Linked DNA regions of Homo sapiens: region 1 is linked to region 2. Evidence: fine-mapped expression QTL. A gene starts in region 2. The other region holds a variant in brackets. All regions are shown on one strand. Distances are from middle to middle. Region 1 holds the start of MRPS18A (mitochondrial ribosomal protein S18A). Region 2 holds the start of CUL9 (cullin 9).

What was found.
Region 1: its variant is fine-mapped to the expression of CUL9 in left ventricle (GTEx, PIP 0.97).

Annotation. Positions count from the first base shown.
Region 1 is chr6:43,684,532-43,692,860 of GRCh38, reverse strand. MRPS18A (mitochondrial ribosomal protein S18A) reads left to right here and starts at 5,070. Exons shown (of 6, transcript NM_018135.4): 1 at 5,070-5,193. The coding sequence starts at 5,082. It overlaps LOC124901320 (a long non-coding RNA gene), which reads right to left and starts at 3,899. Exons shown (of 2, transcript XR_007059586.1): 1 at 3,522-3,899; 2 at 2,968-3,190. RefSeq lists enhancers at 4,700-5,311, 5,257-5,316. The variant C/GC (reference allele first, on the strand shown) is at 3,754.
Region 2 is chr6:43,178,114-43,186,442 of GRCh38, reverse strand. It overlaps CUL9 (cullin 9), which reads right to left and starts at 4,247. Exons shown (of 41, transcript NM_015089.4): 1 at 4,194-4,247; 2 at 1,538-2,141; 3 at 833-987; 4 at 1-488. The coding sequence starts at 2,132. It overlaps SRF (serum response factor), which reads right to left. Exons shown (of 7, transcript NM_003131.4): 5 at 7,958-8,149; 6 at 7,561-7,637; 7 at 4,937-7,348. The coding sequence ends at 7,253. RefSeq lists enhancers at 1-63, 4,507-4,576, 7,579-8,078, 8,079-8,329 and silencers at 4,047-4,096, 4,117-4,256.

The DNA of each region.
Region 1 (8,329 bases), 510 kb before region 2:
TAGCTGAGACTACAGGCATGCACCACCGTGCCTGGCTAATTTTTCTGTGTATTTTCAGTAGAGATGGGGTTTCACCTGTTGCCCAGGCTGGTCTCAAACTTCTGGGCTCAAGCAATCGTCCTGCCTCAACTTCTCAAAGTGTTGAGATTACAGGCATGAGCCACCACGCCCAGCCAGAAAAAGAATTGAAAAGGAAACAAGAAGCATCAACCATAAAAGAAAAAAACTGATAAATTGCACTATATTAAAATTTTTTAAATACTCCTCATAAAAAAAAAAACTACAGGAGAATGAAAAGGCAACCCACAGAGAGGGAGATGACATTTGAAGTACATATATTCAAGAAAGGATAAGTATCCAGCATATATAAAGAACTACAAATCAATAAGAAAAAGACAGGCCAGGAGCTGTAGCTCATGCCTGTAATCCCAGCACTTTGGGAGGCTGATGCAGGAGGATCGCTTGAGAGGAGGACTTCGAGACCAGTCTGGGCAACATAGTGAGACCCTGTCTCCACAAAAAAATTAAAAACAAGCTGGGTATCAGGCTGGGCGTGGTGGCTCATGCCTATAATCCTAGCACTTTGGGAGGCCGAGGTAGACAGATCACCAGAGGTCAAGAGTTCGAGACCAGCCAGGCCAATATGGTGAAACCCCCGTCTCTACTAAAAATATAAAAATTAGCTGGGCATGGTGGTGGGAGCCTGTAATCCCAGCTACTCAGGAGACTGAGGCAGGAGAATTGCTTGAACCCAAGAAGCGGAGGTTGCGGTGAGCCGAGATCATGCCACTCCACTCCAGCCTGGGCGACAGAGCTAGACTCCATCTCAAAAAAAAAAAAAAAATTAGTTGGGTATCATAGTGTATGCCTATAGTCCCAGCTCCTCAGGAGGCTGAGAGGTTGGAGGATCACTTGAGCCTGAGAGGTCAAGCCTGCAGAAAGCCACGAATGTGCCACTGCACTACAGCCTGCGTGACAGGGAAGTCCTGTCTTTAAATAAATAAATAAATAGAAAAAAGAAAAGCAAAACACAGGCAACCCAATATAACATCAGCCAAAATATTAAACACACATTTTACAAAAGAGATGTCTAAATGACCTATATTGCTATATAAACTGCACGCTTGAAATTTATTGGCCAGGTGTGGTGGCTCACGCCTGTAATCTCAACACTTTGGAAGGCCGAGGCAGGTGAATAATTGGAGGTCAGGAGATCCATACCAGCCTGTCCAACATGGTGAGACTCTGTCTGTACTAAAAATACAAAAATTAGCTGGACATGGTGGGGTGCACCTGTAATCCCAGCTACTCGGGAGGCTGAGGCAGAAGAATCACTTGAACCTGGGGGGCGGAGGTTGCAGTGAGCCAAGATCGCACCATTGCACTCCAGCCTGTGGGACAGAGTGAGACTCTGTCTCAAAAATAAATAAATAAATAAATAAATATAAATAAATGGTCTATGAACATATGAAAAGTTACTCATCTTCATTAAGCATCAGAGAAATGTAAGATAAATACACAGTGAGATCCTACTACACGCCAACCAGAATGGCAAGATTAAAAATACCAAAAAAAAAAATCAAATATTGACAAGGTGTGGAGCAATTAGAACTGTCACACACAGTTGATACCAGAGTAAACTGGTACAATCATTATGGAAAATTGTTTGACAGTATCTAGCCTGGCCTTTGGGCCAGACATGGTGACTCGTGCCTGTAATCTCAGCAGTTTGGGAGGCTGAGACAGGCAGATTGCTTGAGCCCAGGAGTTTAAGACCAGCCTGGGCAACATGGGAAAACCCCACCTCTGCAAAAAATACAGAAAATTAGCCGGGCATAGTGTCATGTACCTGTAGTCCCAGCTACTCAGGAGGCTGAGGTGGGAGAATCACCCGTGCCCAAGAAGTCCAGTCTACCGTGAGCCATGATCACGCCACTGCACTCCAGCCTGGGTGACAGAGCAAGACTCTGTCTCAAAAAAAAAAAATTTAATTTAAAAAGGCTTTTGTAAAAACTGTCAAGGCAATATCTTCTACTAAAGCTGAGCATAGGCATACCCTGCAACCTAACAGTTCTACCGCGAGATAGGCCCCAAAGAAGTTTGTTCTTGTGTTCACCAAGAGTCACGTAGAAGAACGTTACAGCACTCTTTGTAGTAGTCCCAAGTGGCAAGTATCTAAATTCTATCAACAGAAAAAAAAGTGATTTTTTAAAATATAGTATATTCACAGTGGAATATTATATAAAGGTCAAATGCAGGGAAAAGTAATGTATTGTGCTAAAAGTCAGGATAATGATTATCCTTGCGGGGTAGTGTCTGGAAGGGGACACAATGGGGTGTTCTAGAGTGCCAGTCAAGTTCTGCTTGAACATGCCACTCCACTCCAGTATGGGTAGTGTGTCCCTTTGCGAAAATTCATCAAGCAGTACACTGATGATTTGTGTGTTTTGTTGTTTTTTGTTTGTTTGTTTGTTTGGGTTTTTTGTTTTTTTTTTTGAGACAGTCTCACTCTGTTGCCCAGGCTGGAGTGCAATGGCGTGATCTCGGCTCACCGCAACCTCCACCTGCAGGGTTCAGGTGATTCTCCTGCCTCAGCCTCCTGAGGAACTGAGATTACAGGAGCCTACCACGCCCAGCTAATTTTTGTATTTTTAGCAGAGATGAGGTTTCACCATGTTGGCCAGGCTGGTCTCGAACTCCTGACCTTAAGTGATCCACCTGCCTCGGCCTCCCAAAGTGCTGGGATTACAGGCGTGAGCCATTGTACCCAGCCTGTGTATTTTTCTTACACAGGTAATACTTTAATTAAAAGATGTGTTGTTTTTTAAAGCTAGTCTCCTGATCCAAACCTGGTCTCACAGAATTGTAGGGACTAATCATAAATGGATTCAGAAAAATAAGATATTATAAGGCAAAGAATATCCACAGTATTATTTCATCTTGCTAAATGTAAACAATGCTTATCTCTGGATTTTAGATGACATTTATTTTCTTTTTACTTTATTTATTGTTTCATTTTTCTACAATGATCACATGTTACCTGTCATAGTTGTTTTTTAAAATAAAATTTGTTTATGATAAGTTAAGATAAGATAATGAGAAGAGGGTTGGCACTCGAATGCTTTAGCTCACTGTGTCCAAAGCAAGCCCTGGGTGGGGCTCTGTTGCTGCCCTTGTCTCTACTGGATTCCTGGAAGTTGGAAATGGGTGAAGAAACAGAGGATGTAGTACAAACACAAAAGGTCATCTATACATCTATAAGCTCAAGGTCATCTATGCAGAACAAACTTGGAAGCTATAGGGAGAGTCAAAGCTTTCTTGATCCTGGCTGGGACACCTAGACCTACACCTCACTAAGACCCTCTGCTTCACTCCTAATCCATGTGTCAGTCTCTACCACCTTGATTGACTTTTCTTTTAAGTTTCCCCTTCACCGGGTTTACCTTTGCTAAATGAGATGTTTTAACGTAACCCAATGCTGCATTTCTCCTGTTCTCCCTGTCTATGGTGATGCCACTCACATTTTCCATACAGCAGCTGCTCTGCATCCTCCTATTAGGGTGACGGTCCCAACTGGATGATGGGCTCCTCTCCTACTCATCAGAAAACATGCTATGTCATTTAATAAGCCTGATTTTCCCATCTTGAATCAGAGAAGGATAGGAAGAACTGAGTTGTGAATGATTTTCCTTTCCTGTGGAGCTCCAGAGGAACATCCTATACGTCTCACAAATCTGAAAGAGGAAAAACTGG[C/GC]AGTTGTATTTTCTCTTTGGTACCATAAGCTTCCTTACAACACAAGTGAGTCCAACTTGTGAAAAGAGTCATCTCCATAACTGCTCTATTAACTAGCTTATGTTTATTGAGCCCTTTTGTTTTGTTTTGTTTTGTTTTGTTTTGTTTTTGAGACGGAGTTTCACTCTTGTCGCCCAGGCTGGAGTGCAATGGTGTGATCTTGGCTCACTGCAACCTCCGCCTCCTGGGTTCAAGCGATTCTCCTGCCTCAGCCTCCCAAGTGTCTGGGATTACAGGTGCCCGCCACCACACCCACCTAATTTTTGTATTTTTAGTAGATAGGGTTTCACCATGTTGGTCAGGCTGGTCTTGAACTCCTGACCTCAGGTAATCCACCCGCCTCAGCCTCCCAAAGTGCTGGGATTACAGGCATGAGCCACCACACCCGGCCGATCACTTATGTTTTATCACATCTAATCTTCAGGGTCTAGTCCTCCCCTAGGCCCTATAAAATAGATTCTACTCATTCATTCAACAAGTATATATTGTACTCTTATTATGTGTCAGGAACTATTCTAAGTGCTGGAGATGTGCGAGTCAACAGAAAACAATGTTCCTGACTTCATGGAGCTTACAGTCTGGTGAGAAGACACATACAAAACAAACATAAAACTGAAATTGTCCCAAGCACTAAGATGGAGAGGCATCTGGTGCTGAGAATGGGCAGTCAAGCAAAACTGTGGAAATAAGGTTTGAGGTGAGCTCTAAGAAATAAGCAGAAGCTAACTAGACAGCTAAAGAGCAGACAAAGGAAATAGCTTGTATCAAGGCCCTGGGGCTAGAGAGAGGTCTAAGTATATGCAAATCAAAGATCAGTGTGGCAGTGGTCAGGGAAGAAGGGGGTATCAATTCTATCCCAGGTCTGCCTGATATCCGATACTCCAGAGCCAGAGTTCCTAACCATTTCAGCCTCTCCCGTAGAGGTCTAGCCCCAGTCACAGAAGCTAAAAGTCCACAGCTCACGTGCAGTGAAGAGAAAGCTTTAAAGACATAGGTGGGGTGTTGCGTGCGATTTTCCTAAGGAAGCCTTCCAGGAAACGAATGCAACCTTGAAGACTTGTAGGCATTGGCAGACAGGAGCTAGAAGACCTCCCCTAGATCCTTAACACGAAATATAGGCTTGACGCAGAAGCCTCTCTTCGTATCCCAAAGCGGACAGGTGAGAGAAATGATGTGACAGGAGCAAGCGAACTACAACCCCGCCCCGCCGTTCCTGCCCCACCACTGCGGCGGCGGGCGCTACGTTCCGGAAGCGGAAATGGACGAGAGGTCAGGGTAGGTTTTTGAAGATGGCGGCCCTCAAGGCTCTGGTGTCCGGCTGTGGGCGGCTTCTCCGTGGGCTACTAGCGGGCCCGGCAGCGACCAGCTGGTCTCGGCTTCCAGCTCGCGGGTTCAGGGAAGGTGAGTCATGCGTCCCAGCAACCTCCTGAAATTAAGAAGAGCGGCAGAGACTGCTTCCGCCAGCCCCGGTGCGCTCCTTCCTACCTTTCCTTCGTCCGATTCTGAAACTTTGGAGGTACCGGCTCCCCAGGCGTGCTTAAAAGCCCCTTCCACACCCTGGTGCCTTATCTTGATCTCCTGCCCCTTGTGAGTATCTTCACAAGGCGGAGGAGGACGGAGAGAAAAGCCTGCTTACTTAGCAGGAGCAGACACTAAACCTGTCCTAGGGCTCAGAAAAGTTTTCGGAAAGGGTTTGCATGTTAATTCTTCCTTCCATGTTCTCCGAATCGCAGTCTCTTTTATTAAAGAGTCTCTGGATCACGAAGGAAGGCCATCTGGGTACCCTCCCAGAGCCTCCCTTTCCACTTTCCCTTCTCAAAATGCTGTGATCTGATGGCGGCGTTCTCTGCCCCGGGCCGCTAGTCTCCCTGTGAGGGGGAGGCCAAAGTGGAAAGGCCATTGAATAGCTGAGACATAGGCAAATGCAGGATGGTAGTTCAGCTTTTCATTAATCTTAATCTGGGAAAGCGGCCTGATTCGAGCATCAACTGAGAGTTTACTGAATGCCAAGTGCTATGCTTCAAGCTGTGAAGGAATTCTGGAGACAGAAAATACAGCCCTTTTTCTGAAAAGCTTAGGTTCTAATGAGATTATGTATATACACACTCCAATAAATGCAAGTTAGCCTTTTACGTGACGAAGTACAGGGAGACTCAGTTACTGGAAACGGCAAACCCAGTTGGAAGTTTTCATAAAGAGGATGTGTCTTGAGCAGGCTCACAAAAGGATGGAATCTGGCGGAGAGTGAAACGGTCTTTTAGGACATAGCCTTCCTTTGTGTACTCCTGGAAGCAGGAAAGGATGAGTGATGTGCAAAAGAAGAGATGTGGGGTTTTTTGAGGATCTGGCATAGTATTGGGCAGCATATCCTTTAACGAAAGCTGAGAAGTATCCAGTGGAAAAGAGTGATCATTGTTGTCAGAGGGAGCAGAAAAGTCTAAAAAGGGCCTAATGAAGGGGCCATTGGATTTGTCTCAGAAGAGGTCTCTTTGTAGCTTTCAAACAGCAATTTCAATAGAGTGGCAAACAAGGAATCCAGTTTGGAGAAATGAAAGAGATAGTTGATGAAGAGATGGAAATAGTAAGTATGTTTGAAGAATTTAGCCCGTAAGGGAAGTGGAGCATTTGCTAGAAAAAAAAGTCTGGATATTGCCTGATTAACTTATCCATTAGTAGACCCATTAATAAAGACACTAAAGAAATCATGCAGATGATAGAGAGGACTTGGATGTTTCATTTGTTCCCATGCTGCAAAATAGGCATATCTCCATACCATTTTGGGGAGTCTACCAAGTGTCAAACACTATTGGCTACAATTTGCATATTCTTATGAAATTCAAAGTTGAGGCAGATTTTGCTATGCTTCCAGAAAAAAAGGCAAGAGGAATCGTTTTGTTTTAACAACAAATATTTGAAGTTAGACTTAATTTTTTCCTTTGGAGAGTTTGTGAAATGATGGACTGTAAGCCAGGTACAGTGGTACATATCTTTAATCCCAGCACTTTGGAAGGCCAAGGTGGGAGGATCACTTGAGCCCAGAAATTGGAGTCTAACCTGGGCAACGTAGTGAGAACGCCCACCTCTTTAAAAAAAGTAAAAAAGGATGGACTGTAAATCAAATGGGTCTCTGAAGTCCTTCATCTAAATGTTAGGTTGAATTAATATGATTCTACATGAAGGCACTACCATATTCTATATTCTTAAGAATCACCTATCTTCAAAGCTTGTAAATGAAAACATTTTCTTTTGCTAGTCTATGCATTATGTGTAAGGCATAAAGTATTATACATATAGCTAATTTTGACTAGTCTCAGCTGGTATATGTGACACCCAAACAATATTGTACACATAGAATTTAAAGTTGTGGGAAAGAAGCTGGTTCTCTTGCTGAAAATATTCAGGCATCCTACTTTTCAAAGTATCAGATAATAATACATAATTTTAGTCAGCTCTTGAGGACTGAGCACCAATTTTCCTGTCTATGAAGACTTTCAGTCTAAAACAGTGATTTTCAACTGGGGGGCAATTTTGTCCCCCAGTAACAATTGGCCATGTCTGCAGACATTTTTGGTTGTCACAACTGGTACTACTGGCATCTGGGGGGTAGAGGCGAGGGACGCTGCTAAACATAATGCACAAGTCAGTTCCCCACAACAAAGAACCATCTGGCCCAAAATGGCAGTCCTGCTGCTGTTGAGAAAGCCTGGTTTAAAGTTTGACCAGAGAGATACACAAAGCCAAAAAAAGGTTATTATGGGAAAAGCAAGACTGAAGGAGGACGAAAATAGAAATTGTGACTTACTGTGCCTGCTTCAAATACTGTGCTAGGTTTTCCACATACATTTATTCAGTCTTCTCAAAAACACCTTAAAGGTAGATATTAACTGTCCTCATTTTTATAAATGAGGAAATGCCGTTCCAAGGGGTTTAATAGCTTGCCCAGCATCACCTGTCTAATAAGTGATGGAGTTGGAAGTAGAGCCAGCCCTCTTCCCTCTCCACCAGTAACATCACCTTGGTATTCCATGGCAGGGCCTCCCTTATTGTTCCCTCCTTCCCTGAAAGCTCTTAGCAGTTAACTTGCCAAAGACCATTTAGTGCCATTATGGTTGGCACTGCCAGATTTAGCAAAGACTGTGTTGGATCTCATTCCTCCCTTATCCCTCTTAGAGCCCTTGTGAAGGAAATGTATTTAAAATAAAAAAACAAACATATTATTATATAAATTAAGACATGATTTGTCAGACACTTAGAGAAAGGTATATTGAAGTGAGTAAAGGCCAAAGGGAATTTGCTTCATCTCTTTCACAGTCAGTTAAGAAGGCCTTCTGGAAGACCTAACGTTTCAGACAAGGGTATGCCTGGCAGGTTGGGCAGTCCCATATAAAAGCTTTGAGAGAGGAGTGAGTTGGAGTCTTTAAAGAATTCAGGGGACATAGTCCAGAGTAACCTGCTAGTGGGAAGAAATTTTTGTGCAGCAGTAAGACGACTCATTCTGAAGCATAGGGCAGAGGGACATTCCCTCAGGGGTCCAAGG
Region 2 (8,329 bases):
ATGCCGTTGTTGCTCTGCCGGAACTCGCCCTCGTCCCCAGCACTGATCTCCTCATAATCATCCAGCATCCGCACTCGCATCCCTGGCTGCAGTGTCTGCTGCACATATTCTCCATAGCCACTACGGCTGGAGAATTCAGAGCGCTGGCGGAAGACCCACCCTTGTCTTCTGGGGGTGGTGACAATGGTGGGGAGTAAAAGGCTGGGGCCTGAAATGTAGGGCTGAAAGATGGACCGGGTTGGCCGGGGAGGTGACATGCCCTGTTCGCTGAGGTTCCGGGCCCAGCCCATGCTCCGCACAAGCTCAGAGATGAGGTTGCCCACAGCCATGCTGAACTCCAGTTCCCGCTGTCCCCGGCTTTTCTCTCTTGTGGCACATGGGGAGCTTTGGTCTCCAGCTCCCAGCTCTGGACTGCTATTCAGCTGATCCAGGAGGGACGTGACACAAAGGTAGCGCTTCACCAAGGAGAAAAGCAGCTTTCCTGGGATCTGTAAGACACAATCCTTGGGACAGGTTCATCTCTTCCTGGCTTTAGCCTCTCCCCTTCCCTGAAGTATCCTCCTCTACAGAAAAATATAAAGGCCTTCTCCCCAGGCCTGTAGTTCTGAAACTTTGATTTGTGTAAGAAAGGCATAGGGAGTGTCTTAAAACACAGATTCCTGGGTTCTCATCTCAGAAATTCTGAATGGAGAGGGGCTGGGAGGGAGGACATGAACCTTCATGTTAACAAGTTCCCAGGTGGCTCTGGTGCTAACATTCAGTCCTGAACCACGTTTTCATAAATAATGTCTTAGCCCTTGTACACAGCATTTCCCTACAGCTGGCAGTGTACCTGAGGCAGATGAATGCCCTCAAAGGCCATGCAGTGTTCTTCAGAGGATGTGGTTTCTGCAAACAGCTCCAGCAATGTATAGCGACTGTCAAAATCCATGTGCTGCTCGATGCCATCTTGCTGGCTCAGTGATAGAAGGACGTGAGCCCGACTCCCTGTAATCCATACCCAATCCATATCTTCTCCTCAATCCCCAGTACTTTCTCCCTGCCTTTCCTAGATTCTATCTCCTACCCCAGACGCTTTCAAACTTTGTTACTAAGGCTCACAGAAAGAAATACATTTTACATGGTAACCTGTTACAAACATACATACATATAACTGAAACATATATTTTATGCTACAAAATTTACCCCTACTAAGTGCTACACACTAATGACTTAAGTTTTTAAAAAAATGTTGGTTGTAACCCACCAAATTGATTTCAAAACCAACTAATAAATCTCAATCCAGTTTCAAAAATACAGATAAGTCCTATTCTCTTCTCTGGTCAATGCACTGAGAATGAACAGATAAGCCAGAGGCTATCATTTTAGCCTCTTTATATACCTGAAATAGCCTATTAATCTATATTTTTTCCTTTGCATCAAATTGATATTCACCAAATACTAGGTGTTCTTACAGAGCTAGGAAATCTCTCCTCTTTCTTATTCCCTGTGGCCCCATTTTCTCCATTCCTTTCCTTCTTCCCTGGCTGTCTCTTACCAGCATCGTGGGCTGCCAGAGCCTGCAGCATTTTGCCTGCACTCCGGCGGATCTGAGGCTCAGGATTGCATAACATGTGCATGAGCAGGTCCAGGGCTCCTGTCTCCCTGAAGACACCAGTGAGGGGCCCGATGCTGGCGTAGGCACTGAGCACGTGGATGGTGTGAAGCACAGCGGCCGTGAGGCTTGGGGTCCCACTTTCTGCCAGCTGCCTGGCCGCCCTGCGTACCAGCGCCTGAACATCAGCCTCCATCTCTCCCATTGCCACTTCATCCAGGCCTCCTGGATCTCGAGGAAAGCTTCCTGAAACCCCAGCTGGTTCGTGCTGAAGTCCCTTAGATAGTGCCCGCTCACCTAACAGCCCAGGGCAGTTGGCGTAGACCTCAGGAGCCGACAGCCACATGAGGATGTGCTCTGCTTTGCCTTCTTCCACACCCACTTTGCCCACTTCCCCACACTTCAGGACACTCCATCGGATCAGGTATTCAGGATGCCCGTCATGCCCAGGCCTCTGTCGAATGAGTTCTTCAGGATATGCCTGCAGCCGAGGCCCTAAGGGCACCATGAGGTCCCCAGCATGCCGTTCCCCCACCATCCTGACCTCCTGGGATACACAAGGAGAAAGATAAGGCAGTATGAGAAAAGAAAAAAAATACATGGAGGGGGTGGAATCTTGAGACACAGAGAAGGTGGGTGGTGATCGGTAGGCTGCATGGTAGAATTTAGGAGGCCAAACAGAAAAGGCAAAAAATAGGATGGAATAAATAGCTGAACATACTTTGGGATTTATAACAGAAGGAGAATGGAGTGAAGACAGAGAGGGGATGAAGAAGGGGTTTAAGAAATGGAAGAGTTGGCTGCGCCCAGTGGCTCACGCCTGTAATCCCAGCACTTTAGGAGGCCAAGGTGGGCAGATCACGAGGTCAGGAATTCAAGTCCAGCCTGGTCAACATAGTGAAACCCCGTCTCTACTAAAAATACAAAAATTAGCCAGGTGTGGTGGCACATGCCCGTAGTCCCAGCTACTCAGGAGGCTGAGGCAGGAGAATCACTTGAACCCAGGAGGCGGAGGTTGCAGTGAGCCAAGACCGCGCCACTGTACTCCAGCCTGGGCAACAGAGTGAGATTCTGTCAAAAAAAAGAAAAAAAGAAAGAAAGAGAGAGAGAGGAAGGAAGGAAGGAAGGAAGGAAGGAAGGAAGAAAGGAAGGAAGGGGAGTTTACAAAAAGAGAATTAAAACAGTAATAGGCAAAGTAACAATAAACAGAGTGACAGTTAAGCAAGACAGTTTAGGCAGGATAGCAGGGTGGCTGAGGGTTACAGATTAGGACTTAGAAGAATGACATGGGTGGACAGGAAGGACAGCAGCATGTGAGGCAGTGGGATCAGAACATGTGAGGAAAAGTAGGATAGCGGAGGGGCAGGACAGGGAGCATAAATGACAGAGTAAAGCTGCAAGGTGGATGTAAAGGGTGGGCCATGGCAGATATAGAGAATGGAGATGACAAAAGGCTGGGATGTTGGGGCAAATGACTGGATAGGAAAAGTATATTCGAGTCTTGTGAAAGGGGGAGGGCCCTAGGGACCAGATAAAATTATGGGAAAGATGACCAGGTCCCACCCTGCCCTTATACTGCATGTATGGTAAGGATTTAAGTAAGTTAAGTAGATAAGATAGAGGTGGTAATCATGGGGTTAAAGGTAGGAAATGAGGTCAGGAGAGAAGCAATATTCAGAGACTTCAGTATCAGATAAATGTGACTCTGAATTCTGGCTTTCTGTCTCACTGTCTGCATAGTTTGGAACAAGTTACTTAACCTCTGAGCTTGTTTCCTCTTCTGCAAGATGGTAGTAATATTCATAGTTACTTCATGAATTTAGTAGGATCATGTATGTAAAGCACTTGGAACAGCATCTAGCACATAAAGAGTGTTCAGTAAACATAATCTGTTATTATTCTTAGATGGAGAAGGTAGGGGAGTCATCAAATAAATGCAAAGTTATTAAGACCGATTATAAATGGGAGTGGAATAATCAGGAAAGATATGCGTGATATGAAGCAGTGCAGGGGCAACAGGGAATAGTGAGAATAAGAATGGAAGAAGGTAAACCCAGATGAAGATATAGTGGTCAGGGCAGGGGTCATGTTGGGGTACAGGGACAGAAGATGAGAGTAGAGGTGAAGAGGAGGGAGAAAGATGGATGTGGACCTCAATGGAGGTAGGGGTCCACTTAGGATGGGGGGCAAGCCTGGATGGTAGCCAGCGATGTGCCAGCGGGCAACTGATTAGCAGCAGGGGGAAGTAAAAGAATCGGATAGGAGGAGGTAGGAGGTGTAACGTCGGCCTAGAAGAGCAACAATAAACTGAGGTGTGGGGGTGAGCTCTGGACGCATGGATGAGACCAGCAGATAGCAAGGTCAAGCCCAAGCTTGCAGAGCCGTGGGGAGGTGGAGGAGGCCAGCACCGCAGAGGGAACGGGTTTGGGGGGAGGGGGAAGGATGGTTGGGGGCGCGGTCCAAAAAAGCTGAAAAGATCCAGTGAATCTCAGAGAGCAAGACCTGGTTCCCTTCGTCAGCCCCATGGACAGTGGCTAAAGGACCGGGGAGGGGACAGGAGAAGGGGAGGGATTGGGTCGGCGCAGAACTCTCCTCTCACCTCCCACCGCCCGGCTCAGCCCTCGCTGGGACCCAGCGGCCGGTCCCGCCGTCCTGGCCCCGCCTCCTCAGAGCTCCCTTCCGGGTCACACGGCGAGTGCACGCACGGCCGGGCACCTACGGGTCCCACCGCGGCCCACGCCGAGCGTGGCGGAACAGCGCGCGAGTGGAGCATGCGTGCTACCGCGGGCGGCTGCACTGGAAGAGGGGCGTGGGGGCGCGCTACCGGAGGAGCCTGGGATCGAGGTCACGTTGCTCCTCTCTCAGCAGCAGGAAGAAGCCGTTTCCATCCAGTCAACTGTGAAGCCCCCTCCTCTTCACTGGGTCGGCCCTCCTAATCCTCCCTCTCCCATCACAGCGATCATGCTGACGAAACATGGTAACCCACATTCCCACCTTAAGGCTGCCCTTTTTGACTTTTCAGTAGGTCAGGTGCCCATGAGTTTCCCAAACCCTTCAGCAATGCTTTGGATTAGTTGTGTCACTTTTCCTGTTAATTAAAATTTGCTCCTCTGCGTTGGCCTTAACACCTAGCGAAGCCACGCACAGGGAGAAGGTCCTCGGCCCCGCAAAACTTTCCTTAAATTAAATCGTATAGAATTAAACAGCCCAAAGCACACCTTAGCATTACCGTTCTCATCAAGCAGCCCGGATCGCTACTCAGAGCAGCAATTTTAGGAGTTTGCCTCGCGTTCATACCCCCATCCCTCCCTAAGTAGAAAAACAGAACCAAAGACCCCACAGTCTGTGCACAAAAATGATACATTTATTGAAAGAGTATTTTTTTTTAATACAAAAGAAAGCTCTGTACATAGGACTGTGACCATGTCCACTATTCCTGGGTCAGCATCCCAGGGGAAGTAGAAACCACTGACATACACACTCACATTCAAGCACACACACTCACTCAGGCGCACACACCCACACACACATACCCCAGAGCCACCGAGGAAGGGAAACACCAAGGGTCGCTGCACATAAAAATATCACCTCAACTCATCCCTGACACACGCATGTCCTCCCAAGGCCACGCTCACACAACACACATTATAAGCACTTTGCCTGATTCACTCACTGGGTCTGTCTTTTGTGGGAAGGAGAGGAAGAATTCATCAAAGGTCTCCTCCCCATGGGTGGGGGAGTGGGGAGTGAGTGAGTGATGGTGGAGTGAAACAAGAGCAGAGAAAAGGGGCTGGGCAGTTACAGACCTGAGTCCCAAGCTCCCCTGCTCTCTGGCCCCTGATTTGCCATGCCCCAGCCTTGAAAGCCACCCATAAGCCCCAGCTATCTCCAGGAGAAAGCCCAGAAAGGTGACTTCCATCTTGGCACCCCAAACTGGGGCAAGACAGCAATGAGGGTTAGAGGTTAGGGGGTTCTCAAACATGTCGGCAAATCATCCCCTTGATAACTAGGCTGTGCATAAAATCTTCCCCCATCCCTTCACCTAATCACAGAAGCCAGCTTGTTCCTACTGAAGGCAGTCTTAGGGGTTAAGAAAATTTCACCCCACTGCTGCCCTGTTTCTGAAAAAGCTCCCCTTCTGGATATAGGTGGTGAAGGTAGGCTCTGACACAGGGTAAAAGACCCTCCCCCCTATGCTGGCCCACCCTCAAGGTCTACCCCAAAGGGGGAGGAGGGGGGTGGGGCATGGCCCCTGTACAAATTACATAAATACTGAGGTTACACTTAGAAAAATAAAGTCATTTTCTTCAAGGCTTTTTGTCTTAATTTAAAAAAGTTACAGTAGCTGCTCACTCCCTGGGAGAACTGCCCATTTCTGGCTCCCCTTTGGCTGCACTCAGCCCAAGAAGCTGCTCCCACTTCTTCTGACCCCCATTCCTGCCTCTCACCCCCTCCCAGACCCCACCCTGCTCACTGCAACTTGGGCCCCAGGCAGCTGCATGCCTGGGACAGCGCAAGGCTGCAATGCCCATGCGTGTGGCACAAATGAAGTCAGTTGCCTCTGCCTGACGCCCTCCCACCCCAACCCCGACATTTGGTCTCCCTCTTCCCTCTCCCTAGCAACAGCCCTAAAGGGCAAAAAGAGGCCCAGAGCTGTGGGTCACCCTCCCCACCCCGTTGGGGAATGGCCTGAGGGCCCCTCCCCCGGCTTTCTCCTGGAAACAACCCAGGACTGGGCAAACCCAGAATCTCCCCCACACACTGGTGGACCCCGAGCTCATGGGGTGGCTCTGTCCCCAGGGGCCCAGCCAGTTCTGGGGAGCCTGAGGGCTCCCCAGGGAAGGGGAGTTTGGGCAGGGAGGGGGACGAGAAAAACGCCATAAAAAAAAGTTAAATATTTTAAAAATATATATTTATAGATTTGTTTTCACTTCGTCTCCTCAAATAAAAAGTTCAAAATCAACTTTAAGTAAAGCAGCTGGGAGGAGAGGGGGGAAGACAAGGGGGAGAAGGGAACGCTGGTGGTTCCCTCCAACCCAGGAGCCCCTGGAGGTCCAAGGGGAGCGGCAAGGCAGGGCAGGCGGCCCCAGGAACCTGCCCAGTGCACAGGCCCAGCTACTCAGGAGCTGAAGGGGGAGAGGACAGCAGTGTGAGGAAGAAGCCCCCATCTCCCCAGCTGGCCCCCTGAGGGGCAGAGCCAGGGCTCTTTTGACCCAGCCTGTGACAGACACAGGGCTGACCTGGGGTCAGCAAGGAGGCTGGCAAGAGGGCCCCAACTGCTTCCTCAGAGGAGGACACGGTGCCCAGCCCCACAGAAGGCCTGTGTGTGGGGAGGTGGGGCACGGTCCCATTGGGTAAGCTAATACTCATGGCAAACATCGAGCCAAGCTGGCGAGGGGGTCCCAGGAAGGAGGACAGCCCCTCCAGCAACAGAAATGGGAGGTGGGGCGGGAAGAAGGGGAGGCTGAGGGAGGACGGGTGGAGGCAGGCAGGCCCATTTCTTTGGCTGGAGTGAGAGGGCTCAGTCCTGTGGCTGCCCGTTCCTCCTCCCCGCCTCCCTCCTGCGGCCCGTCAACGTGTGTGTAAAGAAAACGTGAAAAGGCAACAATAAATAAGTGGTGCCATCCCTTGGGCCATCTGTCCAGGGCGGCGGGCGGATCATTCACTCTTGGTGCTGTGGGCGGTGTCCAGGTTCACCACCTGTAGCTCGGTGAGGTTGCTGCTGCTCCCGGCCTGCTGCCCTATCACAGCCATCTGGAGGGAAGGGGATGTATGAGGAGGGGCAGGGACTGGCCAGCCAGTTCAGGCTCCCCTGGCTTCCCTGCCTGCCAACCACAGGCCTGAGCAGAAAAGCAGATGGGCTTCCAGGCTAGGGATTTTGGCTTTGATGAACTGGTAACAGGATCCCCTAAGGTCAAGACAAAGAAGTGGCTATCTGGGATGGGGTGAAAGATATCCCTACCTACCTGGTGGAGCTGAACTGCTGAAACAGGGATCTGCACTGTCCCAGATGATGCTGTCAGGAACACCTGGGGGACGCCACCTACATTGGAAAACCACAGGAGATACTCAAATTGTTTGTTGAAACTTCCAGATATTGGAGGAGTGGTGTCAAATGCACAAGTGACTGGGGCAGTCTCAGATGTAAGAGCCCAAGGGAAAGGGTGCCAGTGTGTCTGAGGGTGCATGCGGGTGTGAGTGTCCAAGTGGGGTGTCCAAATGTGTGTGTGAGCATCCAAGTCTGTGTTGTATTTGGGTAGAAATATTTGTAGGCATCAGTGCATATGTGTGTGTATGTGTGTGTGTGTGTGTGTATAAAGAAGGAAACGGTCCTCCTTTCCTTAGCCCTGCTCCTCTACTCACCTGGCTCCTGGACCTGGCTGTGTGACACCTGCATGGTGGATGGTGCCTGGGAGAAGGCATTCAGCACGGTGAGGCTGCCATCACCCAGGCCCGAGGTGGGGGCATACATCACCGCATGCGGGCTAGGGTACATCATGTGGCCACCCACAGTTGTGGGCACGGATGACGTCATGATGGTGGCGGGCAGCGTCACTGGCAAACACAGACATGTGTCAGCTCGGCACTGGTCCCCACTGATAACTCCCATTCCGTCCCTAGGAATTCCAGGCCCCCAGAGCCCTCTTGCCATTTCCCAGGTCAGAAGCTAGACACGACTATTCCTCAGCTCCATCATCAACTAAGAAAAGCCTATTTTTTCTTGAACACAACAGC